7 linked regions of the Homo sapiens genome follow. The protein of the gene in region 2 purifies or fractionates together with the protein of the main gene of each other region. This does not show direct contact. Each region holds a gene or a part of one and is shown on either strand. Other genes may lie near its edges.

Region 1 (4,409 bases), on a different chromosome or scaffold from region 2:
GCTTCCTAACATCCCTTTACTCCTTTTCCTGCAACCTCAAATCAATTATTTTGCCACCTCATGAAGAAATTTTCAATAATTCTCTCTTGGGACAATCTTACAGTTGGACAGTTCTAAGTGTAAGAAAACCACACATCCCTCTCAGCATCACACTTACCAAAAGAGTGGATGTCGAAGTGCGCCCAGAAGATGTTGATGATGAAAGGGTATTCTGCTGCGTAGATAACGTGCTGTCAGAAAAAAAGAGGCTGCCATCAGCCATAGTGCTATAGTTACGTGACCTGGAGCTTCAGTCAAGAACATAACAAGGAAATAAGACATAATATGGGACACCAAGGAGGTCTGAGATCATATGTTAAGCACAATGGCCAGCCAGGGGTAGAGAGCAGTTAAAGCAAAAGTGGATGTTGAAAGGGGAAAATTAAAACAAGCCTCCTCTGTCTTCACTTCCCACAGTTCTTAGGTCACCCACTTACGACAAAAGCAGGGCTAATGTGGTCTCTGCCAGGTCAAGGGAGTAATAAGGACCAGAGAGCTCTGTTATTGCTATTCACCAACCCCAACCTCCATCCTCACCCCAAATCACCTGCTGTGTTGTGTGGTGGTAGTATTTGGAATCTCCTCACTGTGGCTCAAGCCACCCAAGGAGGATGAATGCTGATTGGTTGTCGTCAGTAAGGAAGCTGCAGATACCGTTTCATTGAGAGGGGGGATGCTAGAAGTGGAAGGTGAATCAGATTTCACTGCAGAGCCTGTAGCACCTAGAAATTTAGAAGAAAGGAATTCCTCTCATCAGAAAAAAGGGAATGTCTATAGAGAGGTGACCACAGTCCAAGGCAGTTCCAAAGACAAAAGGATGAGTTATTTAACAATGGACTATATTAGGTAGAATCTTTTTTCTTTAATGCTGAGAATTACACAGCATGGGTCTCAATTGTCCAGTGAAGGGAACTAATGGATTATCACCATTTTAAGATAGAAAACCAGAAACTTAGGAGGGGAAAAGCCTGAAGAACACTCACCTTCAACAGATTGTGTGGTCTGTAACTGCGTGGCCTGCACAGAACTGAAGCCATTCTGGTAAAAAAAAAAAAAACAGAAGAGCAAGAAACAGACAAACTCATGTGAATGAGGAAAGTTAGCACTGATGCAGCTTTATTTTGGTCAACAAATCTTTAGGAGAAACTCTGTAAATTAACCAAAAGGATTAATATTAATACAATGTAGACTATCCAAAAAACCAAAATAGGAACAAAAATTAAACAACAAAACTGAGATATACCAACACTGTGTGACCAAAAGCAAAAGAAGGAAACCCTACAAATTGTTGAAGACACCCCAAACCTAAAACAGATAGAGGAAAGGCCCAAAGTCCACATCCAGTGATTTTTGGGGAAGGGTAAGTACAACAGTTCAGCCACACCACCTATTCCGCTGGCTGCATCTGACACTCACTCCACATCACCTCTGGCACATGCTGTCTCCCTCACCATGCCAGGACTTAGCAAGGTGAGGTCTACTGACACGCACCCAGAAATCTGGCAATCACATCTTCCCAGAAGACAGGACAGGCACTTGAGACTGATTCTACTAGAGGCAATGAATTTTTAGTACAAAGAGAATGGTTTCCTGGCTCTTCAGTCTCCGGGTTTGCTGATAAGAACTTTTAATTCACTAGCCACAGATGTGTGCCTTTTTCAAATTCTCAATCACTACTTCCAAAGTTTCTTAGCACCACTTGCTGAAAAGTAAAACACTAATATTTAAGGAATTTTTGCCCACTATTCTCCTAACCAATTCCCAAGGGTTCATGAAGCCACTACCTTTGCCTGAGTCAGGTCCTTTTGGGGTGATGAAGAGATGGAGCTGGGGTACCGCCGAGTCTGTGTGGATCTCTGTTCATAAAGAGGGCCCTGAGCATTATTTTGGGAGGTATAGGTTGTCGACTGAATTGGGCCGCTCTGATAACCAGACTCCTGACTCTGGTTAGATGAAATTGTAGAGGATGATTCACTGTGAGTAACGAAGAGAAAAATCTCAGAGAAACAAAATAGAGCATATCTACTCATACTAAGGAAATCGTGGAGATCTACTAGTGGAATAACTTGATTTGAATCAAGAAGAAATTTTTCAGCAACAAATAGAAGAATCTACCAAAATTTCCTCCTGATAACACTAGGAATCCCTACCTTCTATAGCGCCAGAGATCTGAATTAAGAATTAATCTTAAAAAAACATCTAGGCCGGGCGCAGTGGCTCACGCCTGTAATCCCAGCACTTTGGAAGGTCGAGGCGGGCGGATCACGAGGTCAGGAGATCAAGACCATCCTGGCTAACATGGTCTCTACTAAAAATACAAAAAAATTAGCCGGGCATGGTGGCGGGCACCTGTAGTCCCAGCTACTTGGGAGTAGGCAGGAGACTGGCATGAACCCGGGAGGCGCAGCTTGCAGTGAGCCGAGATCAAGCCACTGCACTCCAGCCTGGGTGACAGAGCGAGACTCCATCTCAAAAAAAAAAAAAAAAAAATCTTAAAAACATCTTCAAGTCTTCAAGGAAGAGAAAAGTCCCTTGGCTCCCCCCTACATTTTGCTGTTATAAGAAAAAGTGGACCCGGAAGCCGTGGCTCATGCCTGTAATCCCAGCACTTTGGGAAGCCAAGGTGGGCAGATTACAAGGTCAGGAGATCGAGACCAGCCTGGCCAACATGGCGAAACCTTGTCTCTACTAAAAATACAAAAAATAGCCAGGCATGGTGGTGGGCGCCTGTAATCCCAGCTACTCAGGAGGCTGAGGCAGGAGAATCACTTGAACCTGGGAGGCAGAGGTTGCAGTGAGCTGAGATCGTGCCATTGCACTCCAGCCTGTGTGACAAGAGCAAGACTCTGTCTCAAAATAAAAAAGTGGCTAAATGTCGGTATACAGGATACATTACTCTTGGCCCCTTCTATACATTATAACATGGACCCTAAGCACAGGAAAAGCCATCTTTTGTTCACACTCATTTTAGAGAATTCTGAATTCTAGGCTCCCTCAAGAACCATATAAGATTTGGGCCGGGTGTGGTGGCTCACGCCTGTAATCCCAGCACTTTTGGAGGCCAAGGTGGGCAGATCATCTCCATTCAGGAGTTCAAGACTGGCCTGAACAACATGGTGAAACCCCATGTCTACTAAAAATACAAAATTAGCTGGGCATGGTGGTGCATGCCTGTAATTCCAGCTACTAGGGAGGCTGAGGCAGGAGAATTGCTTAAACCTGGGAGGCAGAGGTTGCAGTGAGCGGAGATTGCACCATTGCACTTCAGCCTGGGCAACAAGAGCAAAACTCTGAGCCAGGCGTGGTGCCTCATGACTGTAATCCCAGTCCTTTGGGAGGCCGAGGAGGGCAGATCACCCGAGGTCAGGAGTTCAAGACCAGCCTGGCCAACATGGTGAAACCCTGTCTCTACTAAAAATACAAAAATTAGCCGGATGTGGTGGCACATTCCAGTAATCTCAGCTACTCAGGAAGCTGAGGCAGGAGAATTGCTAGAACCTGGGAGGCAGAGGTTACAGTGAGCCGAGATCACACCACTGCACTCCAGCCTGGCAACAGAGCAAAACTCCATCTAAAAAAAAAAAAAAAAAAAAAATCTGGGCTGGGCACGGTTGCTCACCCCTGTAATCCCAGCACTTTGGGAGGCCGAGGTGGGTAGATCGCTTGAGGTCATGAGTTCTAGACCAGCCTGGCCAACATGGTAAAACACCATCTCTACTAAAAAATACAAAAATTTGCTGGTTATGGTGGTGGGCACCTGTAATCCCAGCTACTCGGGAGGCTGAGGCAGGAGAATCGCTTGAACCCGGGTGGCAGAGGTTGCAGTAAGCCGAGATCGCACCACTGCATTCCAGCCTAAGCAACAGAGTGAAACTCTGTGTTTAAAAAAAAATTTTTTTTGTAGAGACAGGGACTCATTATGTTGCCCAGGCTGGTCTTGAACTCCTGGCCTCAAGCAATCCTCCTGCCTTGGCCACCCAAAGTGCTGGGATTATAAGTGTCAGCCATCACACCCAGCCCCTAAGGGGCATATTTCTACCTGTTTAGTTACAGATAACCCTAATAACAATATTTTAAAGCACTAAAAATGCTATGACTGACTACTTTCCCCCTCAGCCATGCAGAGGGGCTTGGCCTCTCCAGAGTTCTAGAAATCTCCCACAGATTAAAAAAGTAGTAAAGGTTAATAAGAGAGGTCTTATGGTTAATGTTTCCTCTACCTGGCCGTGCTGGTATACAGGCTACTTGGAGCCTGGCTTGAAGAGGCGCTCGTGGTGGGGGTGGACTCATAATCAGAAAGGACAGGCTCTGACCCAAACTGCAATGCCCCAAACTGCAGGTTTAGCCCTGAGATATCTGCTGAGCCAGGC
Region 2 (4,295 bases):
CACATGGTCCAGAACTGCAGGAGGAAGAAAGCATCTACTGCATAAAGGAAAGAAAGGAAAACCCATAGAAATGGAAATGTAAAAAAATAAAAAGGGAAGCCACAACCCTTCATGCTGCTGTGGCCTCTGTACATGGCAACACATGAGTTCACGGCAGTAGAACGGAGACTTGGGGGTGGTTCTCTCCTGAGTGCAAGCCTCTCTGGCTCCCTGGGGTGGGGCTGGGGGACTTGCTTTTCAGACCTGGAGTGATTGGCAAGCTGCTTACTGAGGGCGGCATCCCAGCCGCCTCGTTGCCCCTCACTGCTCCCCTCGGCCGTGCTCCCAGGCCATGCGGGCCTGCTCCTCCTTAGCGCTCCCAGGAGGCAATGGAGCCTTGCGGTGCAGGCCTCGAGGCCTCTCAGTCTCTTCACGCAGCAGCACCCCCTCATCGTGCTCCAGGGCCGGCAGGCGGGGGTGGTAGGGCTTGGGCGGCAGCGCAGGCGGGTCCATGGGGTCCTGAGGGATGACGCACCCTGGGGCTGAGTGGCTTCGGCATGGCTGGGCCTTGATGGAGTCCAGGACGGCAGACTCAGAGAGGCTGTAGTGGACAGGGAGGTAGGGTGGCTCAAGATCTTCGTCAGCATTCCAGGCCTGACTTGGCATGGAGTCCATGGTGTCAGTGCGAGGTGGGGCCTCCGAGGAGTGCCCAAAGTTACTCTCACTCAAGGAGGACACGCCGCTGCTGGCACTGCCGGACAGCGTAGAGTTGCTGCCGTCCAGACCTGACTGGGGGCTTGTGGGGGAGGCTGGGATAGGGTGGAGAGGAGACTGCGAAGGAAAGGGTGGGCATGTTAGAATCCCTCTCTCCAGACAGGCTGACTTGCCCGCCATAGGAAGACCAAGAGCCTGCTTATGAATGAACTTTAACCCTCATCAACAGCATGTTTCTTGTTTCTTCAGCAGCAAGCTCCCAGCTCCTCCCACCACCCCTAAGCCAGTGGAACTCCAGAATCATCTGCATTTCTGTGGCCAAAAAATTGCCCTGCCCTGGCTGCTGGGCATTGGTGCCCCCTGGTCCCAGGTCCCAGGCTGCCGTCGGTGGCTCTGGGATACTGACATAAAGGCTGGGTCATCAGGCCTGTTGAGGAGGGGCAGAAAGAACCCTGGTGGGCCGTGGACCAGAGGAATGTATTCTGCTGCTAAAATCTGTGATAGACTCAGTCTTTTCCAATTTGCAGACAAGCTAACAGGTAGGAAATTTTACTCTCCTGAGTTTTTCATAAAGTTCTTGCTTTTACTGAATTCTAGTTTGAAATGCTCTCTGATCCACCACAGGAACATTTGTTTAGCTAGCGAACTACAGTGTGTTGATACCTTGGTGCTGGCTGAGAGCCCCCAGGTTTCCCAGTGCTCACTGCCCACACACTCTTGGTACTGTGTGTTGTTGTCTCCAGGACCCTCTGATCTCCCTGCCCCCATCACATTTGCTGCAGGACACAAATGTGCACCTGCAGCTCAAGTGTGGCTCTGGCCACCCCCAGCTTCTGCCAGGCTGGGGAGAGAGGTGAAGGGGAGGGCTCCAGTTCCTCCTGTAGACCCCAAGGGTGGTTCTAGAGCAGACGAGATGACTCATCTCACAGCCTGGTGGGGCTGCCGCTTCAGTACATTACCTTGCGCAGGGTCCGGGCAGGGAGGGCTGGGGGGGTATCACCCAGAGGGTGGTGGAAGGCGTCAAAGTGTAGGGAGTAATGACCTGCAAAGGGAACAGAACCAGAGCCTCAGCTGGGGGCCCTGCACAGACTTCATGCCAGCACCATCTTGCTGGGCCAACTGGGCAGGCATGAGAAGAGTCCCCTGGGGACCCCTCAGCATTGAGGGCTATGGATAAACCTCTCTTTACACTGGCCTTCTCCAAAACACAGGCTGCTGGGGTAAAAGAAACTCACTCCACACAGGAAGTCAGAGAAGTTGAGTGCTTCAGAGTCTGTGGAACAGGCCTCAGGCAGCGGCAGCTCTAGCCCACTGCTAGGCGATGAGACAGTCTGGTGAGAAGTGTGCCTGGCACAGTCAATTCCATTGTCTTCAGCCTTCTGGTTGGGATGGCCTTCCTGAGCTAACCTGCTGTACTCGGAAACCTCACTGACCCCAAAGCCCAGCAGGATCCTTCCTGTGGTGGGGGTGTTTTGGCTTTGGCTGAGTCGGCCCAGAGAATGGCCCATCTTCTCAGCTTAGATGGCTGTTGCTGTGGCCCTTGAGCAGAGTCTGAGACCAGGGACTATCGGGGGACCCGCTGGAGGTCTTCTTACCATGCAGCAGGCTTCGGGGAGGCACTGGGGGGGCCAGGATGCGCCCCATATGGGCAGACAGGAAGGGCTGGGCCTCTTGGGCTCCGCTATCCAGACTCCAGCTGCTGGGGGCTGCTGGCACAGCTGAAGGGTGGAAACAGATGGCATGAAGGGAGGTTACTTCTTGAGCCACCCTCTGGGAGAAGTACAGCTTGTGGCTTCTCCAGTGTGCACCACGTATCCAGCACACATGTGGGGCATGCCAGCACCTGGAACTAAAAACGCTGGCCAAGCAAGGCACTGTGGTCCACAGGGGAGAGTGGCCAGGGATTGAAGCTGCTTAAGAGGAGGGCAACAGAGTGAGTTTATGTCTAAAGAGTATTCAGGATGAGATAGCTGAATGTGCAGCAAGGAGTGAACGCCTGCAGCCTCTGGGATCTGCCAGGAGGAGAAGAGAAAACAGGACAGAAGAGTAGAGATGAGAATGAGAGAATATAGAGAGAGCACAGGACATAGAGCTCCTTGCCAAAGTCTAGAGTCAGCTCTCCTACTGCCCAGGCTCAGTGGGAAAAGCAGGGAGCAAGGACAGGTACCTGTTGGAAGAAACTGCAGCCCAGATCCAGCTGGACCCACTGCTTCCTAACAGGAGGAGGGAGGGCTGTGGAGCCGATGAGTACCCTTTGGCGTCTACAGAACCCCAGTTCCTAGCACCCACATGCCATGGATGCAGGGGTGCAGTGGGCCCAGGAAAAAGGGAAGCACAGAGTGCCCTTCTGTGTTAAAGAAGGAGTCCACTGCCAGAATACTGTCCCCTCAGCCACAGTTGGGATGACAGACTTTTCAGGAGGAGAGAGGAATGATGGCTGGACCTTGGGGTCTGAGGGTGCCACTCTGCAGAAGCAGCAGTGGACATGTGAATTCTTTTGGCCAGCTCCTCCTAGAGAACAAATACCAGCAAAAAGAAATATGTCCTTTCTCTGTTGGAGCCAGGCAACTCTCCCCTTTGGGCTATTAGCAGCAGAGAAGCGGCTCACAATCCAGGTGCTGTCACTGGATTTGTTCTAAGGCCGTGGTAGCTACATTGAGCCTGAGGTGGCTGAGGTTTGGTTTCTTCCTGGCCTAGACACAGAGATGGGAATTTCAGGGCCTAATGGGAGCTGACAGGCTTTGGAAGGGAAGGAGCTAGAGTCTGTCCTTTGAAAAGGATGTGGCCAGAGGGGCTGGGCCCCCTCAGCTGTCCAGGGATAAGACTGTGACATCCATCATCCTCTTCTTCCTCATTGCGCAGGAACTGGCGTGAGCTTGCAGCAGAACGCAGGGTAAAACTCCACTGTCTAAACAGCCTCAGTTCTGAGAATTGCCCCGTCTCCTGGTATGGTTGATAGCTGGCGGCAGGAAGGAGGGGTGTGCCAGTGATTGAGTTGCAGGCAAGACACTTAGCTGTTGCCTGAAAGGAGGAAAGAATTCTGCATCTGATGAGCATCAGGTGGATTTCACCAAATAGCCTCCTTAGAGAGCCTGAGCCATCCCAAGAACAGGCCCACTCACCCATGCTCCCTACAAGATGCAGCATGAGCTTCTTGGTGTTGAGGCTCCCTGTACCTTCCCCTCTCTGCCAAAAAAATCACCTTCTCCATAAAAAGCCACCAAAGAAATATCAGGGAATAGGAAGCTTAGAAATGGGTCTGGGCGGCTTCCCTAAAGGGGTTCTGACAGCCCAGGATCTCAGATGCACACCTAGCCCTGGAAGAATTATGGGGTGCAGATGTTCACCCACAAGGGCTCAAAGGAGCTCTAGGGCAGGAAGGCTATGGGAGAAGAAGGCTTACAGGGCTTTAATGGTTTACAAAAGGGTGCCTGCCTGAGTGACTCCATATAAACCAGAAGCCATCAAGTTTGCCCTGCAGCCTGATGTCTGTGAGCAGTGGGGCCAGTAGACCTTTGCCATGTAGCATAAATGCACTGGGGCTAGAGGGAAGGCTAATACAGAATGACTTATCCTAGGAAAAGAAGGGTGATCCCAACTGT
Region 3 (4,409 bases), on a different chromosome or scaffold from region 2:
CATTAAATATGACTGAGGCGCTAAATGTCATTACAGCTACCTTTTATCAGATTAAGAATGTTCTGTTCTTGGTCTGCTAAGAAAGTTTTAAAATCATGAAAGAAATTAGAATGTAATTGAAAAATTTTTCTGCATCTCTTGAGATCATGGGATTCTTCTCCTTAATCTGCTAATGTGAATTACCTTGATATATGTATCTTGCTGATTTAACAATATATTCTGAAAAAAAAAATCACTCAATAGTTCATGGAGATTTTCCTAATTATTTTCTGTAATAGTCCATGTATTGGCTATTTATTCAGCCAATCTTCGTATGGCAGTTAGGTTGTTTCTAATATATTACTATTACCAAAAACACCTCAATAGAGAACCTGGTGTATATGTAAGTATTTAAAAAAAAATTTTTTACACATTATTGGAGGTGTATCTTCAGAGTAAATTCCTAGGAACAGGATTGCTAAACTAAGAAAAATTGTATATTTTTGTTGTTGCTGAGCTATTGCTGAACTCTCCTTTAAAGGGACTATTACCACTTTCTATTCCCACCAGTGATAAATGAGCCCATTTCCCTGTTGTCTCAGCAACAGGGAACTGCCATATAAGGCATCTGCATGTCTTTTATCATATGTAAAGTTGAGTATCTTCTAATACATTTAAGAGCTATTTGTATATCTTGGGGTGTGTGTGTGTGTGTGTGTGTGTGTGTGTGTGTGTACTATCTGTTCATGTCTTTTGCCCAATTTTCTAATGTGTTTGGGGTCTTTGTTGTCACAACTTAAAATTTTCTTTATATATTAAGAATATTAGTCGTTTGTCATTTTGATTTTGATTATGGTGTTTTCTGACAGACAAAAGAGACAAGTTCTTTTTATGATAGACTATTTTCTCCCAAGTAAACATTAAAAATTCTTCTACCTTTAGGTGAATCAGTTTCATAACCTGTAATTGTCTAGATCTTTTAGTTGAAATAATGAGGCTGACATTTCTTTCTTCCTTACCAACAAACTTTTTTTTTGCCTGAGAATATAATAAGGTTTAATCTAACTACTAAATATATTTCTAACAATGTAATATGGAGGCAGTGATTCCAAGCTGGAAAGATACTTAATTTATTCAGTTCTTCCCTAATTCAAGGTAGAACATAAAACATTTCATCTCCACCATGAAGGTTCAGTAGTTTTATCTTTACTAAGGAACAGCTGAAGCTATGTGATTAAGACGACAGGTAATAGAGAAAGGTGTATTTCTCAGTGGTTTCTAATGTGCTCTCTCCCTGCCTAGTCAACTCCTACACTCCCTTTGAGTCTCAGTTCTGGCTAGATTACCTTTGCTAAACTCTGTCAGTCCTTTTTTCGTTCACTCATAATATACTGTGTCCACCTCTAACCATGATGATGTACTTTTTTTGGCTCTGTCTTACATGGTGAGCATCCTGAAAGACGGGATGAGTAACTGTTCATTTTTGTATTGTTTTCACTAGTAATAAAGAGATCTTTGTTTTAGAACTCTTTTATCATTTGTTGAATGATAAATGAATTTTACAGTTCTAGAGGTTATTATGCTCTATAAACATGTGGCCTGAAAACATATATCAATGTACTGCCTTATATAATATGCACGAAAGAAGATAAAATACTAGGATAATACCACACCATTCCAGGGTTAGATGAAAAAGTTAACATATTTGTGTATCAAAGATAAAAACATACAATAATTAAAAATCAAGGCAATGTATTAAAAGCAAGATTTCTAAAAGAAGAATGAACACATTCAACTGTATAGAGTAATATGAGAATAAGTAACTACATTTATAAAACTTGAAGACTGTAACTGAAGTAAGAAAAGAAATCATACATGAGCCATGAAAAACTGCGTGTTTCCAGCTAGATCATTTGCTGTTAGATCTAAAGTGAGGATCAGAAATAATAAATGTTCTTCCATATGGAAAAGCTGCATAAATAATAAACAGCCAACTTTTACAGAACATGTCAGGGTGTGCCAGGCACTGTTCTAATCCTTTACATGTACTAACTCATTTAATCCTCCCAACAACCCTATAACACAGGTGCTATAGCACCCTATAACAAGGTGTCCCATTTTTTCAGAAGTGAAAACTAAGACAGAAAAGTTAAGTAATCTGCCCACAATCATATAGCAGTTTGGCACGGGATTCCATGCTTGTAACCACCACACCTCATTTGGCCATTTCTTCATTGTCCATAGAGCCTACACAGGAGCTGTGAAATGACCTCCCCATCTCAAGGTCCTTCACATAATCACATCTGCAAAGTCTCTGTTGCCGTGTAATGTAAGAAACATATGCACAGATTCTGAGGATTGGGATGTGGACATCTTTGGGAAGGGATGCATTATTTCTGCCTCACACTTCTAAATATGAAAAGCTCTGTATGGCTACAACTGTCTAAATCAAGATTTCTCAACCTGGGTTCTGTGGAATCCCAGGGTGTCCCTGAACTCGCTAGGAGCTCCACGCAAAAGAGTGATTTCTATCAATGCACTGCCTTTAAATATGCACTAAAGACAATAAAATACGAGGATAATACTACACCATCTGCAGCCCCTGCAATGGGCTTTGTACACTGAGCAATGCAGGTTCACAGTGATGGAAAGAGACTATGCAGCCCCTATAGCAATTTTATTATAGGTCTTTGAGCCTCATATGGCAGTAAGCAGTTAAGATTATGTTCACTTGACTTGGTCCATTTAGTATTTTTTTTTTCAGGAGACAGGGGAAGCCACTGGTAGCTGATGAGCTCTATACAGCAGTCTGACGTCAGCCTCTTCAGCTTTACCTGCCCCAACCTTCCCTTATGCACCAACAGCTGAAGCAAACATGCTCTACTTGTAGCAAAGAAAACTGGAGGAAATTTTTCAATTCAATGTGATTTCTAAAGAAGAGGTATGAGCTAGGAGAGGAAGGTTCTAAGCCTAAGCATAGAGACAATTCTCCCTAAGTAAAAACAATGAATTTCAAGCTTCTGAATCATTTCACTGCACTAGTGCACTGGGAAAAACAAAAAAGTCCATTTAATGATGAGACCTACTTATTAATATGGTTGTACCTGGATGGATAATTTCCAAGTTGCCTCATCTGTGAAAAACACTTTATCAATGCAGCAATGGATCCAACAAAATCGAGAAATCGCAACTACAAGTCACAACCATTGATAAGTAAAGACACCGATTATTTTGATATCCTAATGGCCATTTAAAATAGAGTAAAGCTTTTTTTTTTTCTAAAGTAATGTTCACTTAAAAAAGGCTCAAAAAGGAAATTACTTAGTAGCAGAGCTTAATGCCCAGAGGAAGAAAAGTCACACAGTGGGCAAGGATCTCATAATGCCTGCATGTGAAATTACAAGACGTTTTTAGCACAAGATATAGTATAAGAAATTTAAAAGGCTCTATTCCCAAACCGCGCAATAAGTGGACACAAGAGATGACTTTTCATATCCTGAAGAGGTTTTGTGATAAACTATAAAAAAAAAGCTTCTCTATTGAGTCTAAAAATTTTACCAATAAATGACATGCTATAGCATTTGTAAGGTCTATAAAGAATGGTGTACTCAAGAAAACTGTTTCTGCTGTGAAGTCCCCAAACAAGCAAAGGCCAAGCTGGATTTCACGCCCTGTCCTCACGTGTACCTCTGAGGAACTGCCCTGGGCTGTACACTGTGGTGTCAAACAGAAAACGCTGACACTGTCAACTCATGGCTTTCTTCACTGAAGTGCTGCTATCAAAATTCTCACAAATAAAATGAAAACTGGTTCTAGGTATCAGAGAAATGGCTAAGTTTATTCAACAAAGACCAGTTCACTCAAGAATGTTTTGAAAATTGGCCGGGCATGGTGGCTTACACCTGTAATCCCAGCACTTTGGGAGGCCAAGGTGGGTGGATTACCTGAGGTCAGGAGTTTGAGATCAGCCTGGCCAACATGGTGAAACTCTGCCTGCACTAAAAATACAAAAATGAGCCGGTGTGGTAGTGCATGACTGTAATCGAAGCTACTTGGGAGGCTGACGCAGGAGAATTGCTTGAACCAGGGAGGCAGAGGTTGCAGTGAGCTGAAATTGTACCACTGCACTCCAGCCTGGGCGACAGAGCGAGACTGTCTCAAAAAAAAGAAAAATAAAAGAACGTTTTGAAAACTGTACAAGTGTCTAACCTAGCAACAGGGCAGGCTCTCAGAAGAGTGTGTTATAGCCACTGCCACCATGGGGAGGGGATGTGGACTGTGCAAGCAAGTCCTCTGTCCATGCTGGCCATGTGAATCCCCAGATGACCACCAAGGTGTCCAGCAATCAGTACCACTCTCCCTCCTACAGCTGGTACAGAGAAAAGCGGAGGAACATCTGAGGCCCCTCACTTACAACTTCTCTGTTCCAA
Region 4 (4,409 bases), on a different chromosome or scaffold from region 2:
AGCAGACCTTTTTTGTCGCTCACATATACATTAATAGCACTGTCTCTGACATTGACAACTATTTATCCTCTGTCTTCAGGCTATATTAACTAGCAGAAGATAAGAATGAACAGTGGGTTCTGGTGGCCATCTGGTCAACCAGATGCTGCTGCCCAGATGGGCCTGGTTCCTCCATGGGGATGCCATGGGATCCACCTGTTTGCCTAAGCTAACAGCACTGGAGGCAATCCTGGCTGCATGAAGGAGGAGGAGATCTACTTGGCACTCCAGCAAGTGAAGCTGCAGAAGCTGGGGTATTCAAGGACTCAGGCAAGGAGCCTCCTTAGCTTATTGACTAGCCTTCCTCTGCCTCTCTAGCCTCATTTATCACCCTCTTCCTGTTCCCACTGAAAATCTTGACCAGTCATTTGGTAAAACATCAAGTTGAAGGGTTTGTAGAATTTCCTCAGTCTGTGGATGACATCTGGGTCAATGCGAGGATGAGTCCGACCTTTGCTCTTGCCTAAGCACCTCGGGGCACTGCTGTCTTCTGGCTTCTTTAGGCAAGGGAACCCCTTGGTTTTGTTGAAATAGAAATGCTTCTCAGTCACAACACGTTTGAGGCCTAGAAAATCCTGTACTTTGGCCATTTCCCCGGCGGGGTCCACAATGAGTCGCTCACCACTGACAAAGAGGATCTGGGAGAGGGGGAAATACTGGAGCCAGTTTTCCAGATGCAGCGCATAGATCCCTATTCGAATGGCACTCCAGGAAGCATCGATCAGCCCGAGGGTCCGGTTTTTGAAGGCCAGCACCTCAAAGGTGGGGATCTCGGGTTTCTTTGACAGTGTCTGCGTGTAGTCAGAGATGGCCCTGGTCACGGGGTTTCTCACCACCACAATCAGTTTGATGTCCTTGGCCATGGAGTGAATGCGCTTGGGAGCCTCATTTGTCACAAAGTAACTTGGAGTCTTCTCCATGGTTATTTGCCCATCCAAAGTCTTGGGCATCACATTTCTAGGAGAGGGAGGAAAAAGGAAGAGAATGGTTATTCCTGTCCAGAAATATCTGAACTTCTTTGCACAAAATGTGTGATATAAACAACCTAGTTTGGAACCACCAAATAAAATTGATAAACTCTTGCAAGTTCTTCTTACCTATATCTCCTGACTATAGTCTTACCCTGGCTACGTATTATCAGAAAAGGCAACACAAGGCATATACATTCTCTCCCTTATATATCCCTAGGTTTAAATGGCTATTCTACCTCTTACCAGTTATGTTTAACCTAGATACACCCTTGATTTCTCTACGTATTAGTTGTATAATCCCTGAAACAGAGATAATGATAGCACTGACTTCACACTGTAGTATAAGGATTAAGGGAGATAATGCTCAAAAAGCATTGAGCAATGAAGCTGGCATGTGTAAGAGTTCAATAAATTAAAGAAATTATTATTGTTATAGTAGTTTTTAGAAAATCTTTGAGCTCAACAAGACCTCAAAGCTTATCTAGTCCAGGATTGGCAAACTACCTCCTGCCTCCTATTTTCGTCTAACTCACAGATAAGAATGATTTGTAATCACTGAATTGTTGTTGAAAAAAAAACCAAAAAGATAATAATAATATTTTGTGATGCATGAAAATTATATAGAATTCAAATTTCAATGTTTATAAATAAACTTCCATTGGAACACAGCCACATTCATTCATTTACATATTCATCTAGGCTGCTTTTACAGTAAAACAGCAGAGCTGAGGAGGTAAGACAGAGGCCATATGGCCCAAAGCCTAATGTATTTACTCCTTATTCCTTTAAGAAAGAGTCTGCTGATCCCTGACTTGGTCCAAAGGTATTATTGTGCAAATGAGAAAACCGAAGCCCAGGGACAGGGAATAAACATGGAAATCAGACAGGCTTTGTGACCTCAGCAAATTGAATTATATCTTCGAGCCTTATTATCCTCATTTGTAAAATCCTAAAACCTACCTCAAATCCCAGCACTTTGGGAGGCTGAGGAAGGCAGATCACAAGGTCAGGAGTTCAAGACCAGCCTGGCCAATATGGTGAAACCCCATCACTACTAAAATACAAAAATTAGCCGGGCATGGTGGCACGCGCCTGCAGTCCCAGCTACTTGGGAGGCTGAGGCAGGAAAATCACTTGGACCCAGGAGGCAGAGGTTGCAGTGAGCTGAGATTGTGCCACTGCACTCCAGTCTGGGTGACAGAGTGAGACTCCATCTCAATCAAAAAAAAAAAAAAGAAAAGAAAAGAAAAGAAAAGAAAAGAAAAGAAAATTCAGTTGAGAGGAAAATGACATATAAGATGAAAGATCTAGCATAGGTATGGCTCAATATATGGGATTTTATTCTTTCTTTGCTCCCAAAATTGCCCAGAAAGCCACTGACAGATCCCATACCAGGGTCAGTATCTCTTGGTTCCTTTGCTAAGGCTGCTCCTCCACTCCCATTCCTCCATCCGAGTTTGCCTCCAGAGTAGCCTTATCTTATTTGGGAGCTCCAAGATATTAATATTAAAGGGGTTTGATGCCATTTTCCCCTAATCTCAATGTGGCAGGCTTATCAATGATAAAATTAAGCTTAGAATGCCATTATACAGTCAATTTGCTACAGGCATATGTAGACCAAAGTTAATTGAAGATAAACCTGTTCAATACCTGTCAGTACAGCAGGCCATCTGCCACCATGTGCTCCATTAAATCTATTCACTTCTGAGCCTTGCACCAAAGTGGTGCATTTAGGATTACACAAGACCTCTTTGTTATGATGACATGCTTTTAAATGTCTTAGCTAATAAAACTTAATACAGACAAAGATCCCCTAGCTTCTCCTACCATAATTAAATTTATTTACTATCGCGTGTGTGGAGAAAGAATGACTTTTCTTTTATCTCTAATTCACATGCTCTGTCAATAATTAATTGCAACTGGGTTTTGAGCTATCTCGGCAAGCACTTTTATGAGGCAAGAGGAATTTGCCTCGTAGAGAAATTCACAAAGAGCTGGATGTTGTTAGTATAATGGTTGGGCAGCGTGGTGTTTTCAGATCAAAGCAATAGCCCTGGCCATAAACAACCATGCTCATCTTGGAGTGACATATTCTCCAAAGTAGTTTGAATGCCTTTGTGTGTGTCTGTTTGGTTCTCAACAGATCAATTTGTCTAATTTGGAGGAACAGGGCTAAGGAATGCAGCCCCTGGGAATCAGATTTGCCTGAATTAAGAGTTCTGATTACCCATGCTACCTTGATGAAGTTACTTAACCCATTTTGACCCTTAATGTTTCATCAAAGAAAATAGGGTTAATAAAAGGCCATGCCTCATAGGATTTTAATGAAGATTAAATGTCATAATGCAGGTAAATCACTTGGGATCATGCCGGTTCAATGTCAGAATTTTTTTAACTTAAGCCAGCTGGCCAAAATCAGGATTATTCTTACAGTAATTCTTACAGAAGGGCAAGGAAAAAAAAAATACTTCATTTGACCAAATGGAAAAGGCAGGAAAACATGGTATCTAAGGAACTGATCTAGAAAAAAGTATACTCTAATTCATGCCAATATCATCAATTGCACTTCCGGATCTGGAGGCTGGTGTCCAACAAGGGAGCTACCATTAGCTCAGCCTGAGTATAGGAAATATACTGACCATCTTATTTTTATTTCAAGTGGAGAGATATATTCCCTTGTTTCATTATGCAACTCATATCATATTATAAAAATATTAGATAAATCTTGATGCAAAAACACATCACCTGAAAATAGCTATTTTTATACGGCCTTTTCCAGATTTTAGTTCCCCTGATGTACTTTTGACACACAAAACTAAACACATTATTTTGTTGCATTTTTCTTTAGTGTAGGAGCAGCTGCTCAACTTTTCTTTTCATCCATTCTTCACCTTTGCCTTCTTAGACCTCAATGCTTCTCTTTGCACTGAGCCCCATTCAAATTCATCTCCTTTACTTCAGCTGATTGACGATCTGTCAAGATCTTTGTGGATCTTGAGTCTTTTATCTGAAGTATCTGGGACAAAATGGTACCCAACATATAAGCTGGTAGATTTAGCAGAGTAGATGTGTGCCTAACTTACTGCTTGTTGCAAAAGGAAATAAGAGAAGGCATTGCAGAAGGCTTTGGAGACAGTAGAGGGGAGCAGAGGAGACTAAATAGCTTTGACCTTCATGCTACCCATGAATGTGAAAAGTATATACTTTAGGAGAGTTTTTGCATTTGGGGCACACATGGGGAGACTATCTCATTGAGCCATGATTCAACCAATGTGGCATGAGTTATCCAGTTATTTTGTCAGTGAGAAGATATCCAGTAGTTGCTTGAAATCTATAAAGGACAAAGCTCCCTTTCCTCAAACTGATTCTGAATCAGTTATAGTCATTCATTCATTCTTT
Region 5 (4,916 bases), on a different chromosome or scaffold from region 2:
GTATAATGATGTTTTACTTAACTAAAGCAGAGGTATGTGTATATTAAGCAGACACATTCAGAAAATAATTGTTGGGCTTTTGTTTTATCACAGTTTCTTGCTGTGGAGTGGGGTGTGATGCCATTAATAGGATTTCAAACTTAAGTGAGAGAAAAAGAAATAGAATCAAATAAGCTTTAAAGAAGCTGATTCATCTCACCCAACACCTTTTCTACTGATATAGCCTCCTACATATTAGGAAAGGCAAGGGTTGGAGTTGTTTAAAGAGTTGAAAACGGGAAAGGAAATAGAGGAGGGAAGTTTTATTGAGAAGAATTCCACCTGTCTAAACAAGGAAAATAGTATCCTATGGGCAAACTTTAGCATCCCTGAAAGAGCCCTGGATCTTCACTGATGGCTGCAGAGGGGACACCCTGATAAATAGATGACATCGACAGAGTGTCTCAGGAAGAAACAAGTGCATGGATTCATAAAAAGGCCAGATGGGACGGTGGGCTGCTATGAAATATTATAGCACACCTGTGGAATACGGTAGTGTAGCTGGGAGGGACACATTGGTCTGGGCCAGGGAATCACACTGCATTGTCCTCACACATTGCCTTTAACACATTGCCACTCTCCACTCGGAAAATAGGTCGAGCAGGTCTAGGGACTGTGGTAGGGCAGTTACAACAATTTGATCGTATATCTTTTCACTATCTGAAAAACAGAAGTTGTTATTGAGCAAAGATTTAGTTCTGGGGTAATACTAAATGCAACATCTAGATGTTTGAAAAATAAAGTTTCCAAAAAACATCTGCATACAAATTAGGGCTTATGAAATATAGGCAAGCTTAAGTGTTATCTTCCACCATTGTTGGGAAGGAATAAATCTTGAACATTTAGGAGTTCAACGTCTATTAGTAGAATGATTTTTTTAGGAGGTGATCCCTAAACTCCTTTTTATGTTCTAAGTACTGCATGGTTGAGGGCTGGACTGTCTAGTGCTGAAAGAAAGTGTGTATTGAACATAGAGCCTGATACACAGTTAGGCGCTTAATGGTTAATTGATGCTGGTTGAATACAGTTGTATAGTTGGACGCACCAAGTTTGTTATTAAGGGAGGACCACCATAAAACTCGAACACCAGTTAGAATGTCTTGGGTAGAAATTCACAGCAGTCTGGAGCCACGTTCCCCTGCTGAGAAGGGAACTGCCAACCCGTGTAAAGTCTGGTCTAGTGAGTGTTCCCGGGAGTGTGCAGGTGTTATTCCTGAAAATAAGGCCGGCCACTACCAGACAGAGAAGCTGCCCATTTTAAGGTGTCAGATCAACGCCAGCGACGCTTACCTCGGGGCCTCCTCTCGCCCCACCTTTGCCTTTCTGCCAAATCTCTCCTTGCTCCCGGCCGAAGGGATTCCCACCCCCAGCTGCCTCCTCCGAGCCCCGCGGAGCAGCGGACTCCTCCCCTGGAAACTCCTCCGGGGCTGGGGGAGGCTTTGGCGCATGCTCCGTACCTAGGGCAGGTTTTTGCTGCGGGTAGCAGGGCTCCTGTCACACCGGCTGGCGGGTTGTGGCGGTGCCAGCCTGTGTGTGCGAGTGTGTCTGCGTGCCTGCGCCTGGGCGGACAGCCCGGAGCGGCAGTGCGACTCGCCGGGAGAGGCGTCTCCGCAGAGGCGCCTCGCCCGCTGCCGCTGCGCTGCGGGGGCCGCTCTGCAAACTTGCGGCGAGCGCCGTCAGCCCTCGCGGCTCCACAGCCCCGCGACCTGCCGGCAAAGGCGCCGGGCGCGCGTGCCGGGCGCGGTGCCCGCGGCCGGCCGGGGCGGCGGGAGCGGGCCGCGCCTTCGCCCTTGGCCGGCGCCCTGGCGAGCCTCATGCAGCCCCGGCGCTCGCGGCCGCAGCTACCCGGCTGCCCGGCTGCGCGCGGCAGGTCCAGGACCCGAACCCCGCTCCCCAGCGCCTGAGCGCCTGCAAGCCGCCGGCGGGATGCCGCGCGTCGCCTGAGAGAGCCGCGCCGGGGCGGGAGCAGGGAGCGGGCCGGCCCGGGCGCACCCGGGAGCGCAGGGCGCCCCACGCCGCAGCCGCAGCCGAGCGCGCCGGCGCCCGCCTCCCCCGCCCGGCTCGCAGGCCCCGGCTCCTCAAGCCCCGAGGGCCGCGGGGCCGCCAGCCAGCCACACGCCTCGGCGTCAGGGGCATGGAGGAACGGCGGGCTCCGAGCCGCGCCCCGGAGTCCGCGAAACTTCCGAGCGGGCGCCCGTCCGCCCTGCCGCCGCCGCCGCCGCCGCTTCGCCTGCCGGCCTGAGAGCGGGACCATGGATGAAAGGTTCAACAAGTGGCTGCTGACGCCGGTGCTCACTCTCCTCTTCGTGGTCATCATGTACCAGTACGTGTCCCCCTCCTGCACCAGCTCCTGCACCAACTTCGGGGAGCAGCCCCGCGCGGGGGAGGCCGGCCCGCCCGCCGTCCCGGGTCCCGCCCGCCGGGCTCAGGCGCCGCCGGAGGAGTGGGAGCGGCGGCCCCAGTTGCCCCCGCCGCCCCGGGGGCCCCCCGAGGGACCTCGGGGGGCCGCGGCGCCGGAGGAGGAGGACGAGGAGCCCGGAGACCCCCGGGAGGGGGAGGAAGAGGAGGAGGAAGACGAGCCGGACCCCGAGGCCCCGGAAAACGGCTCCCTGCCCCGATTCGTGCCGCGCTTCAACTTCAGCCTGAAGGACCTGACCCGCTTCGTGGATTTCAACATCAAAGGGCGCGACGTGATCGTGTTCCTCCACATCCAGAAGACGGGGGGCACCACTTTCGGCCGGCACCTGGTGAAGAACATCCGGCTGGAGCAGCCTTGTAGCTGCAAAGCGGGTCAGAAGAAGTGCACCTGCCACCGGCCTGGCAAGAAGGAGACGTGGCTCTTCTCCCGCTTCTCCACCGGCTGGAGCTGCGGGCTGCACGCCGACTGGACGGAGCTCACCAACTGCGTGCCGGCCATCATGGAGAAGAAGGACTGTCCCCGCAACCACAGCCACACCAGGTACTGTCGCCCGCTGGGTCTCTGTTCTTCCCCCCCACCCCCCATCCCTCTTCCTCAGTCCTGACCCAGAGCGACCCCGCGCTCCCTGCCCCTGCCGATGGTTTCCTGGCGTCTTCAGCGGTTGGCGCCGTGGCTTTGGGGAGGGATGAGAAACCTCCGGATAGTGCCTAGGTCCTGAACTCGTTCTTCCCCCAGCCCCCACCGCTTCCCGCCACCCCTCTGCCTTCACCCTCTAAGATGTGCGGAGCCACCGTGTGGATCCTGCCTGTTGCCTAGCACGGCCTGGCCTCCCTCCCAGTGGACGCTGGAAAAACGCCCTGAAATGGGGAGCGGATCGCGGTCTGGGTTAGACCAGCCTTGTAGAATTGTGAACTTAAGTTTTGGGAGTGTAAACCCAAACCCAGGAAAAGGAAGGGGGAGTAGAGAGGCAAGGCACGAGTTTTCCAGGCGTGGTGAAGCTGGAGACGAGTATAATCCCTCCCTAAGTGGCTTTTGGATGGCAGCTCAGGAAACAGTCAATCCTCTTGATGCCACTTTGAAGACACACGTGCAAATTCCTGTTCTACCGCGATAGATAACTCTAATTCTGGAGATGGTCTTTGTTGCCCAGCAGTGCCAGGATTTGGACTCACCTGTCCTCAGAAAGATTTCCATGCTCTTCCTAGGCCATTACATCAACTTATTCCAAAAGTATGTTAAATGCCTACAGGGTGCCTGACAGTGTGCTAGGTGTTAAGTGAGTATAAAGATAACATAACATCCCTTGTTTTCAGGATGGAATGACATTCTTGATCCCCTGCCTCCCAGCCTTAAAAAACAGTAATACAGTGGAGAATTAAGAAAGTTAAAAATCTTAATAGCCAATGAAACTGCTTACATTATTAACATGCTTTGAGAGAGACATGGGCTTAATAATTTGGTTGAAGGTCCTTTCTGCCCATTGCAATTTGAAGATTAATCTGACATGCTTGCTAAAGGACGAAAATATTAAAAGCTTGGAACACTAGTTCATTGAAGTTTTTATCTTAAAGGTTTCAAACAATTTGGTATGAGGAAATAGGAATTTAAAAGCTCAAGCTGATTATGTTGATATCCCAGATAGCTTTTGCATTTGACGTTATAGAAAAGCTTCATTTACTGGAAGCTACCCAGATTCTGGAATTCACCACCACTGAAGCATCTAATTCTACTTCATTTCTCCAAGAATGAGCAAAATTTCATTATGAGATTTTTTACTCTGGCAATTCTTCAGATACTTTCCTTCCTCCCTGCTCCTTTTCCTGTTTCCTGCACATTAGTTAGAATAAGAAACTGGATTTGGAATGAGGGAATTAGGCTCTTCTCTTAGTATATTTTACGGATCCTTTGCTTTTAAATATTTTTAATAGTGTATTACTTTGGATCTTGCCACTCTCTTTTAGCTTAAAACAGTTTTTCAATTAAGTATTACTTCCAAACCTCCTAACACATAACACTATTACTTCAGTGAGACACAATTTCTGCTACATTTCATCCAACCTTGTACTCCCTGTTTAGATTAATTCCTGATTGACCTCAAAGGGTTTGCTAGACTGCTTCCCAGCTTCCATTTCACTAAAACTGGAGTCTTATTGATTATCACATAGAAATGTCTGATTACTCTTCAGTAGGGGCTGGCATTATTTTTGTCCCAGGTTCATAAAAGTCTTAGTAAATAGATGAAGATTTTAAAGGACTTAGAGGAGGATGTGGAATCTAAAAATAATTAGATTTTTGCTTAGTGATGAATAATGTTACTACAGACCCTGAATAGGTGACAAGCAGTAAGGTCTCACTTCTATAGGAAATACTTAATATCTCTATTCTGTTGACACAGGAAAACTCCACTGTGACTGTTTAAACATATGATTTCTAGTGTATGATCAAGTTATTTTCTTTG
Region 6 (4,409 bases), on a different chromosome or scaffold from region 2:
GCCCCAGTGCCCAGCACATCCTAGGAGGCAGGAATGAAGAGGACCCCTCCTGCCAGTGCCCGCACTGACCCACCTCCACCTCCACTGCCCCATCCAGCCCTGAGCCGGCATCTGCCCTACTTTGCAGATGTTAGGGACATACTCAAGGCCACCTCCCTGGCTGCTGGCCCAAGCTGGCTGAGCTGGCTAATACACGAGGCCTTCCCTTCTTCCTAGAAACAGGGGGCAGCTTTGGTGCCCCCAAGGACAGACGCTTCTGCAAGGAGAAAGCTTAGCATGTGTCTGCCAAATGCCCCGCTGGGCCAGCTCTGCCCACCTCCTCACCTGCAGCGTGTAAAGATAAGGCAGCCAGACACAGTCGCCCCAGCCCAGGTACCACCCGAAGTGGTCATGGCAGATGTCAATGGTCTTCAGGTACCAGGTTTCGTTCCAGAAGAAGTCAATCACGTAGATGGCCTGCAAGACAGAAGCAGCCGCTGACCACCCCCGGCCCTCCTGGGGCCCCCATGGACCTCGGGGAAATCACACTCCACGCAGATGCAGCAGGGGGTGCTCGGGAGCTGCTCAGCAACTTCCTCAATGCTGGGGCTGTTCCTTCCCTGCGGCTGGGGCTGTTCCTGCCTGGGTCATGGGCAGGGCTAAGGGCTTCCTTGTCCTCAGAACCACCCCGAGCCCATGGCCCTGGCATCTCTCCCAGCCCAGGTTCTCAGGGCTTGCAATGGCGCGTGCCAAGGGGAAGGGATACATTCATCCCATCCAGGTCAACCTCCTGCCCGAGCAACGTCCACAGCTCCTGACAGGCCTCCCTCACCCTCTCGGGTTCTCCTAGCCAGCTCCCGCTGGCTCCCTGGGTGACGCTTCCGAATGCACCTGATCGCTGCCACCCTGCACCCCAGCTCAGCACACACTTTCTGGGTCTTGCTGCTTTTAAGATAAAGAGGAAGACTTCCATGAGGCCTCCAGCCTCACCTGGCTCTGAGCTCCTGAACGCTCTCTGGTCAGGATGCGGGATGTTTCTGAGTGTCCCAGACTTGCCACCCTCTCTCCCTACAGGGGGTTCCTGGAGCATGCACTCTTGCCTCCACTCTACCAGGTTAACTCCCACACACCCCCAGATTCTACCCAGGTGTAATCCCCAAGGGAGACCTTCCTGGACCACGCCTGGCTGCGTAGAACCTGCCTCCTCCCCTCCCAGGGCTGGCAGAGACAGGCACCCAAGGATGGCTTCCTTCACCAAGTGCTCGCCGGCTGCTTCCTGGTGACACCTGGGGAGGGCAGCTGACTCTCTTTTACAAGCAGTAGATTAAGGTCATGGGAATACGCTCTGGCTTGCGGGTTCCCCCAGAGCCTGCCGGCATCGGCGTTTCACCCTCTCCAGCCATGACAGGCACCTGCAGGACGTTGACCAGGACCATGGCATTGGTCACATGGCTGTGGAGCTCCCGCTGCTTCGCTGCGAAGGACAGGTTGATGAGGGTCCAGGCGACGATCCCGGGGCGCCCATTGAAGAACAGCTTGAAGTCAAACCACTTCCCGATCCGAGGGTTAAACTCGATGCCCATCATGTAGTTGTAAAAGAAATTGCCTGTGAATTTGCTTAAAAATATAAATAAAAGATACATTTAGTGGATGAGCATATCTCACAAGATGAAGCCACCTTACTTAGCGAGAGCCCAGCACTGGCCCAGGGTCCTAAAGGGTAACGTGAGACGGCGCAGGCAGAAGCTGGCCATGAGCCGCTGGGACCCCCACGGCTGGAATGCTTGTCGGCTGGTTCCTGGCGCCCTCATTCACTTTGCTTTGCATTCAGCTGCTGCTCAGCAGAGACTTCCTTAGGCAGAAGCCCAGGGGCACCTGCTCTGCACCCGGGAAGGGTGGGAGACCGGCCCTGGGCTGGTACCTGGGTTTCTCTCTACCCTTCTCCAGATGCCCTTGACGCATGGCACAGGTGAGCTGAAGAACTGGCTTGATTGCACTGAGATTACGTTCTGGGGCCCAAGCACACGGTTTGAAGCCGACGCAGGGCACGTGGGCCCTCATGGGTGAGTGACATTATAAATCACGCCAACGTAGAGAATGACAAACGCACCCTGGGCCCGGCTTCCAGCATGTGCAGGACAAGTTCTTTGACCAGTTACCTGAATCCCCCAATCCCCGGAGGGCCAGAGCATCAGCCGAGATAACCCCTGTGGAGACCCTGACTAGGTCTAGCTGGCTGAGGACACACAACAATTTCTGTGTTAACTAGAAAATCCTATTTTCATGTCCAGTTCCCTCAGGTAGGGTAAGTAGAAAGAAGCAAAACACACAAAGTCTACATGATTATAAGGTAGCGAGGATGATTTCCAGGAGCCATTGAAGGCCAGCCTCGTTATCTGATAACACACAAGCTACAAAGTGTCATCCTCCAGAAACATTTCCCAAGAGCCTAGGTGTAAACCACACTGGGGTTTTTTGGATCCCCCAAACTGAACTGTAAGTCCCACTGCCTACAACTGTCCACAAGAGAACCCCCCAAACATTGGTTTATGATGGATGGATGGATAGATAACAGGGTGAGTGGGTGGAAGGATGGATGAATGGGATGGGGAGAGGAGCAGGTGGATGGATATATGATAGGCAGGGTTGAGCTGGGGTGCAGGGTGGCAGGGATCAGGTGTGTTCAGAAGTGTCACCCAGGAAGCCAGAGGGAGCAGGCTAGGAGGGCCTGAGAGGGTAAGGGAGGCCGGTCAGGAGCTGCGGACATTGCTCAGGCAGGAGGTTGACCTGGATGAGATGATGCATTCCTTCCCCTCGGCACATGCCATTACAGGCCCTGATAGAGTGGATGGATGGGTAAATGGATGGATGACGGGCAGGTGGATGGGTGGGTGGCTAGATGTGTAGGTGGGTGGGTAGGTGGATAGGTGGATGGACAAATAGATGACGGGTGGGTAGACAGACGGGGTGGAGGGTGGATGGGCAGGTGGATGAGATGGATGATGGATGGGTGGGTGGGTAGGTGGAAGGATGGGGAGATGGGCAGGTGGATGGGTGTGTGGCTAGATGTGTAGGTGGGTGGGTAGGTGGATGGGCAGATGGATGAATGGGTGATGGGAGGGTAGATGGATGGATGATGGGTGGGTGGATGTGGGTGATGGATAGGTGGATGGATGATGCATTGGTGGGTGGGTGAATGGGATGGGGCAATGGGTAGGTGGATGATGGGTGAGTAGGTAGATGAATGGGTAGGGGGGTGGATGGGTGGGTGGGGAGATGGGCAGGTGAATGGATGAGTGGACAGAGATGAGTGGCTCACCACTGTCCAGCCATGGGAATGGGTACAAGCCAGCAGGGCTCTCCTGGGAAGCTGTTAATTAAAGCCACAGGGACAATAAGACTCTTCACTAAGGTTGTTTTGGGCCTCACCAGCTTATCCAAAGAAAGAGGCAATGGGCTGCCTGTGCCCCAAGCCAGAAGTTTTTCCTGGCTTCCTTACCCCCACGCCAGCCCTAAAGGCAATGACTTGGCCACCACAGCTGACCTGGCCATCTTCAGCTGCATTCTTGCCAAGGCTGGAGAAGCCACCAAACATTCAGAAAGGATGTTCCCCAGGGTGAAGCAAGTTCCATCCCCCTCCTCCTCTTCCACGGATTCTCAGTGCTCAGGGCTTTACAACCACCTGCCCCAGGCAGCAAGAAAGGCCAGGGGTGAAGTTTGCACTTTCTACATCAGGCTGGACCCGCTGCTAAGAACATACCAGTCTCTGGCGCTGGTGGGGAAGAAGTAGCCCTTGACCATGGCGAAGGTGGAGACGGCATAGCCAAGGATGTTGGCGCACCACAGCAGTGGGATCCAGTTGTCGAAGATGATGGTGGGCGAGAACCAGGACAGGAGATGAGCGTTTGCAAACCAGAGCAGGTGCGTGAGGAGCCAGGCTTGCAGGCCATTGATCTGATACTTGTTCACAACCCCTGCAGATGAAGGATTCAGAAATGAAGGCGCTTTCCCAACCCGCAGTGAGGAGCTTGGCTGGGCTGAAGCATGCCTGGCGGGGGCCCTGGTCACTTTCTGGGCCTCTGCTGCTGCGGACCCTCATCTGGGGCCCCAGGAACCATCTCTGAGGCCCCTATACCCTTGGCCAAGGAACTACCTGCTCCTAGGAAGAGGGAGGGGAGGCTGAGTCCATCCTTTGGTTCTGCATCTCGTTAACTGGCCATAGGCTGAGTGACAGGTGTGCAGTCTGATAGGGAGGTCAGGGCTGAGGGGCAGAAGCAAGTGAGGATGCCCCTGTGGTATGCCTGGCCCCCTCTGTAATTGTTGGGGAGCACCTCAGCCCATCCACCCCTCAAAACAGGGAGCTTCTGGGGGCAGAGTTGGGATGCGGTTCCAGTCTGCACCCACGTGAGAGGCACAAAGCCAGGCTCCTC
Region 7 (3,344 bases), on a different chromosome or scaffold from region 2:
CACCATTTCCTGCAGGGCCGTGGTGCTGGGGTAATGGAGGGCGGCCATCTTGGTTGCCATGACTATGGTCTTGAGCTGCTCGCAGAGCTGGTTGCTGGAGTTCATGACTTTGTTGCGAATGTCCTGGGCAGTCACCTGCCGTGTCAGCGTGTCTCCAATGAACACCAGTTTGTGTGCACTGAGGATGACAAACTTGCTGTGTGCCACGAAGATTCGCGGGGGCTGGGCTGAGCTGACACAACTGAAGAGTGCGTCAATGGCGTTGAGAAGGGAAATGAAATGGGTCTCACATTGGTCATAGTAGAAGCACAGCAACTGCCGATCCTGAGCACTCACGCCACTGTTTGTGGTGGGTAGGCTCTGAGAGGGCTTCCACTTCGAGATGTCATTCTCCACGGGCTTTGTAATCTCTTGTTCCAACAGCTGGAACTGGCTCAGCTGCAAGGAAGACGAAAGCAGATCTCATTAGAGCAAGGGAGTGTGTTGCAATGGAAATTCACTAGGCCTTGGAGTTAAAAGACAGGGATTTTAGTCGCTAGTAACTGTCAGATGCATGTGAGCTGTAAAGCCTGGGTCAAGCTGCCTTGCTTTCCTAAATTGTAAAATGTAGACGTTGGGAAAGATGATCCTCAAGCTCAGACCTTCTATGATTGGACTACTGGTCTCTTGTACCCTCTGGCTAGAAGGTAGCATAGTGTTTAAACCGCAGCCCTGTTACCTACACCTTTATGGAGGTTAAATGAGTTAACGTTTACAAAATGCTTATAATAGTTTGGTATGTAGTAGGCTCTATGTAAATGTTTATTAATGTTGAGGGGTGGCAAGGGAAAACCAAATGTAGTGACCTCCTTGTCAAGTAAGTCACTGACAGTTTGCTCCTTCTCGGAGAAAGCCTCGACTATCTCAGGATGCTCAGATGAAATGACCATTCATGACCCCTTTCTGTTTATCCTACTCTTTCTGTCAAGATTGATAGACATGTTATGATCCAGCACTACAGGAAGATTAATGCATATAAATATATGAGCACTTAAGGAAAAAAAGTTTCTAAGGCAGTCTGAATGGGAATTGTGCATCATAATATTTAGTCCCCCAGAGCTGTTAAAAGAAGGGGGTTTTACCCAGAGTCAGATGCATCAGGTGCTGGCTTTCTTCCTTCTTTCCTCATTGCTACCAAATGGTGTATTATTTAAATTGCAATTATAATAATTTCTAGGGATTCCACTAAGACTCAAGAGAGACCTCTCTTCTGCAGATAAGGACTATCTGTGACCTGAGCTTCAGACTCAGTTAATCTCCCACCTGGACGTAGGGATGAGCTGGAGCAGTGATCACCTCACCCAGCTTCCCCAGCTTCTCTGAGAGATGCACAGCCAGCTTTACTTTACTTTTCTTTTTTTTTGAGACAGAGTCTTGCTCTGTCACCCAGGCTGGAGTGCAGTGGCACGATCTTGGCTCACTGCAAGCTCCGCCTCCCAGGTTCACACCATTCTCCTGCCTCAGCCTCCCAAGTAGCTGGGACTACAGGCGCCCGCCACCATGCCTGGCTAATTTTTTGTATTTTTAGTGAGACGGGGTTTCATTGTGTTAGCCAGGATGGTCTCGATCTCCTGACCTCATGATCCGCCCGTCTCGGCCTCCCAAAGTGCTGGGATTACAGGTGTGAGCCACCGTGCCCAGCCTTCAACAGCTTTACTTTTCTAGAATCTGTTTTCTTCTTAGCGATTGCTATGGTTTCTACAAGTTCCCCAAAGCCCTGCAGTCTTACCTTGCCAGATGCCAAGGCAAACATAAATAGGTACAAGGTGATATTCCAAGGTATTTAATCATAATGGATTATATTTTATATATCTTAGGCTTTATGCAAATATGTTCATCAATATATCATGTCATTAGATGGGGGGGGTACTTTCCCATTTTATAGGGAAGTAACTGAAGCTCGGGGAGGTTACCTGACTTGACATAGTTGGTTGGCCAGAAAGGATTAGAACTCAGATTTCCTAAATATAGCATGCCATTTCATGTCATTACATGCCATTTCACTTCATTTCATCTTAAAAGGCTTGTAAATAAATCCTCAATCCATCTCTCTTTATTTGTATGCCCTTGTTCTAGCAATAGTCGTCATTATCTCCCCTACTCATACCCAGCTTTTGAATGAACATGCCCTGCCCAAAGTCCTCAGTAGATAGGCCTGGATATATGTTGAAAACATTGAATTCTGCTCTCCTACCTTTAGATTGGACCAAGGCCAGGCAAACCATAGGCTTGTGTTGCTGGCGAAAGAGAGACAAATAGCGAGGTAGAGACAGAAAGAGAGAGAGAGAGAGAGAAAGAGAAATGGCCCAATCAACGTGGCCCAATCAGACTCTTTCTTGGGAATCTGATGAACAAGAGAAGGGAGCTAACCATCGGAAGAGGAAGCCGAGATGAAAAGCCATCTATAGAAGTTCTGAGTGGCCATTTATGGGTTCTGCAAAGTTACAGGGGAGCCAAATGAGTAGATAATTAGAGAAAACCAGAAAATAGGTGAGAGTGAAGTAGACTGATAGAAAGAAGCAAAGGAACTACAAGAAGGAGAGATAATTTACAGTTCTAGTTCTCCCCAGACCTGGCTCTATCTTCACTTTCTGTTACTGAATTCCCCTACTGTGGCTTTACTATAAACCTGCTTGCTTAGGCTAGCTTGAATGGGTCTTGTTTCTTGAGACCAAATGCCTTAACCCAAATAGTCCTCATATGTTAGATATGCAGGTTTAGCCTTTAAAAAAATTGCCGTTTAGATGGAACCCAGGTACACCCAGTTGAACTAACAAGGTCATAAACCTTCTCTTTGCTTTTAAACCCCATTCCGTGCTTTGGAGCTGATTCCTGCCAGTGAGCTGGAAGAATCAAAATCATAATCTCTTGAAGTGATACCTTTCCTTAGTGCTAGGTGGGAAATCTTTCCAATGCCAAGCAGTTTTTGCTCTGATTGAACTTACCTGATGATGTTCCAGCTGCATCTTGTTCTGTTTCATGATATTCTCTTTTTCCAATAGCTCTTTCTGTTGCCTCTCAAACTCCTCCTTACCCTGTTAATTTTCAACATAAAGAACATATTATGTCATCACTGTGATTCACTTATGCTAACAATTTCATTGACGGATGAGTAAATACTCTTTATTTTCCACTGCCTTGGCAACATCTCAAATGCCCAGTGAGGCACTGTGAACCCTAGACGACAGGGGTGGCAGAAAAATAAAGCCCATTGCCATATAGGGTGCCAGCTTTCTGGGGCACCTTAAAATTTTCGGAGAGCTACTCATGATTCCCTTCAAATCTCATATATAATGTTCTTTTTA

What was found.
Region 1: the proteins of DOCK3 (region 2) and UBAP2L purify together in Homo sapiens (affinity purification with mass spectrometry; one large-scale study listed by BioGRID and IntAct). This does not show direct contact.
Region 3: the proteins of DOCK3 (region 2) and AIDA purify together in Homo sapiens (affinity purification with mass spectrometry; one large-scale study listed by BioGRID and IntAct). This does not show direct contact.
Region 4: the proteins of DOCK3 (region 2) and HS3ST4 purify together in Homo sapiens (affinity purification with mass spectrometry; one large-scale study listed by BioGRID and IntAct). This does not show direct contact.
Region 5: the proteins of DOCK3 (region 2) and HS6ST3 purify together in Homo sapiens (affinity purification with mass spectrometry; one large-scale study listed by BioGRID and IntAct). This does not show direct contact.
Region 6: the proteins of DOCK3 (region 2) and DHCR7 purify together in Homo sapiens (affinity purification with mass spectrometry; one large-scale study listed by BioGRID and IntAct). This does not show direct contact.
Region 7: the proteins of DOCK3 (region 2) and NEDD9 purify together in Homo sapiens (co-immunoprecipitation; one study listed by IntAct). This does not show direct contact.

Annotation. Positions count from the first base shown.
Region 1 is NC_000001.11:154,251,504-154,255,912, reverse strand, and holds part of UBAP2L (ubiquitin-associated protein 2-like), read right to left. Parts: coding exon 4,260-4,409; intron 2,014-4,259; coding exon 1,824-2,013; intron 1,078-1,823; coding exon 1,023-1,077; intron 762-1,022; coding exon 587-761; intron 231-586; coding exon 158-230; intron 1-157. UniProt on the Homo sapiens protein: Recruits the ubiquitination machinery to RNA polymerase II for polyubiquitination, removal and degradation, when the transcription-coupled nucleotide excision repair (TC-NER) machinery fails to resolve DNA damage.
Region 2 is NC_000003.12:51,377,565-51,381,859, reverse strand, and holds part of DOCK3 (dedicator of cytokinesis protein 3), read right to left. Parts: exon of another isoform or gene 2,418-4,295; intron 2,412-2,417; coding exon of another isoform or gene 2,289-2,411; intron 1,736-2,288; coding exon 1,653-1,735; intron 811-1,652; coding exon 301-810; 3' UTR 1-300. UniProt on the Homo sapiens protein: Potential guanine nucleotide exchange factor (GEF). GEF proteins activate some small GTPases by exchanging bound GDP for free GTP.
Region 3 is NC_000001.11:222,677,523-222,681,931, forward strand, and holds part of AIDA (axin interactor, dorsalization-associated protein), read right to left. Parts: intron 1-4,409. UniProt on the Homo sapiens protein: Acts as a ventralizing factor during embryogenesis. Inhibits axin-mediated JNK activation by binding axin and disrupting axin homodimerization. This in turn antagonizes a Wnt/beta-catenin-independent dorsalization pathway activated by AXIN/JNK-signaling.
Region 4 is NC_000016.10:26,132,199-26,136,607, reverse strand, and holds part of HS3ST4 (heparan sulfate glucosamine 3-O-sulfotransferase 4), read right to left. Parts: intron 997-4,409; coding exon 360-996; 3' UTR 1-359.
Region 5 is NC_000013.11:96,088,572-96,093,487, forward strand, and holds the start of HS6ST3 (heparan-sulfate 6-O-sulfotransferase 3), read left to right. Parts: upstream 1-1,535; 5' UTR 1,536-2,291; coding exon 2,292-2,998; intron 2,999-4,916. UniProt on the Homo sapiens protein: 6-O-sulfation enzyme which catalyzes the transfer of sulfate from 3'-phosphoadenosine 5'-phosphosulfate (PAPS) to position 6 of the N-sulfoglucosamine residue (GlcNS) of heparan sulfate.
Region 6 is NC_000011.10:71,437,488-71,441,896, forward strand, and holds part of DHCR7 (7-dehydrocholesterol reductase), read right to left. Parts: intron 3,954-4,409; coding exon 3,740-3,953; intron 3,350-3,739; coding exon of another isoform or gene 3,299-3,349; intron 1,597-3,298; coding exon 1,392-1,596; intron 457-1,391; coding exon 325-456; coding exon of another isoform or gene 317-324; intron 1-316. UniProt on the Homo sapiens protein: Oxidoreductase that catalyzes the last step of the cholesterol synthesis pathway, which transforms cholesta-5,7-dien-3beta-ol (7-dehydrocholesterol,7-DHC) into cholesterol by reducing the C7-C8 double bond of its sterol core.
Region 7 is NC_000006.12:11,185,234-11,188,577, forward strand, and holds part of NEDD9 (enhancer of filamentation 1), read right to left. Parts: intron 3,075-3,344; coding exon 2,985-3,074; intron 439-2,984; coding exon 1-438. UniProt on the Homo sapiens protein: Scaffolding protein which plays a central coordinating role for tyrosine-kinase-based signaling related to cell adhesion. As a focal adhesion protein, plays a role in embryonic fibroblast migration.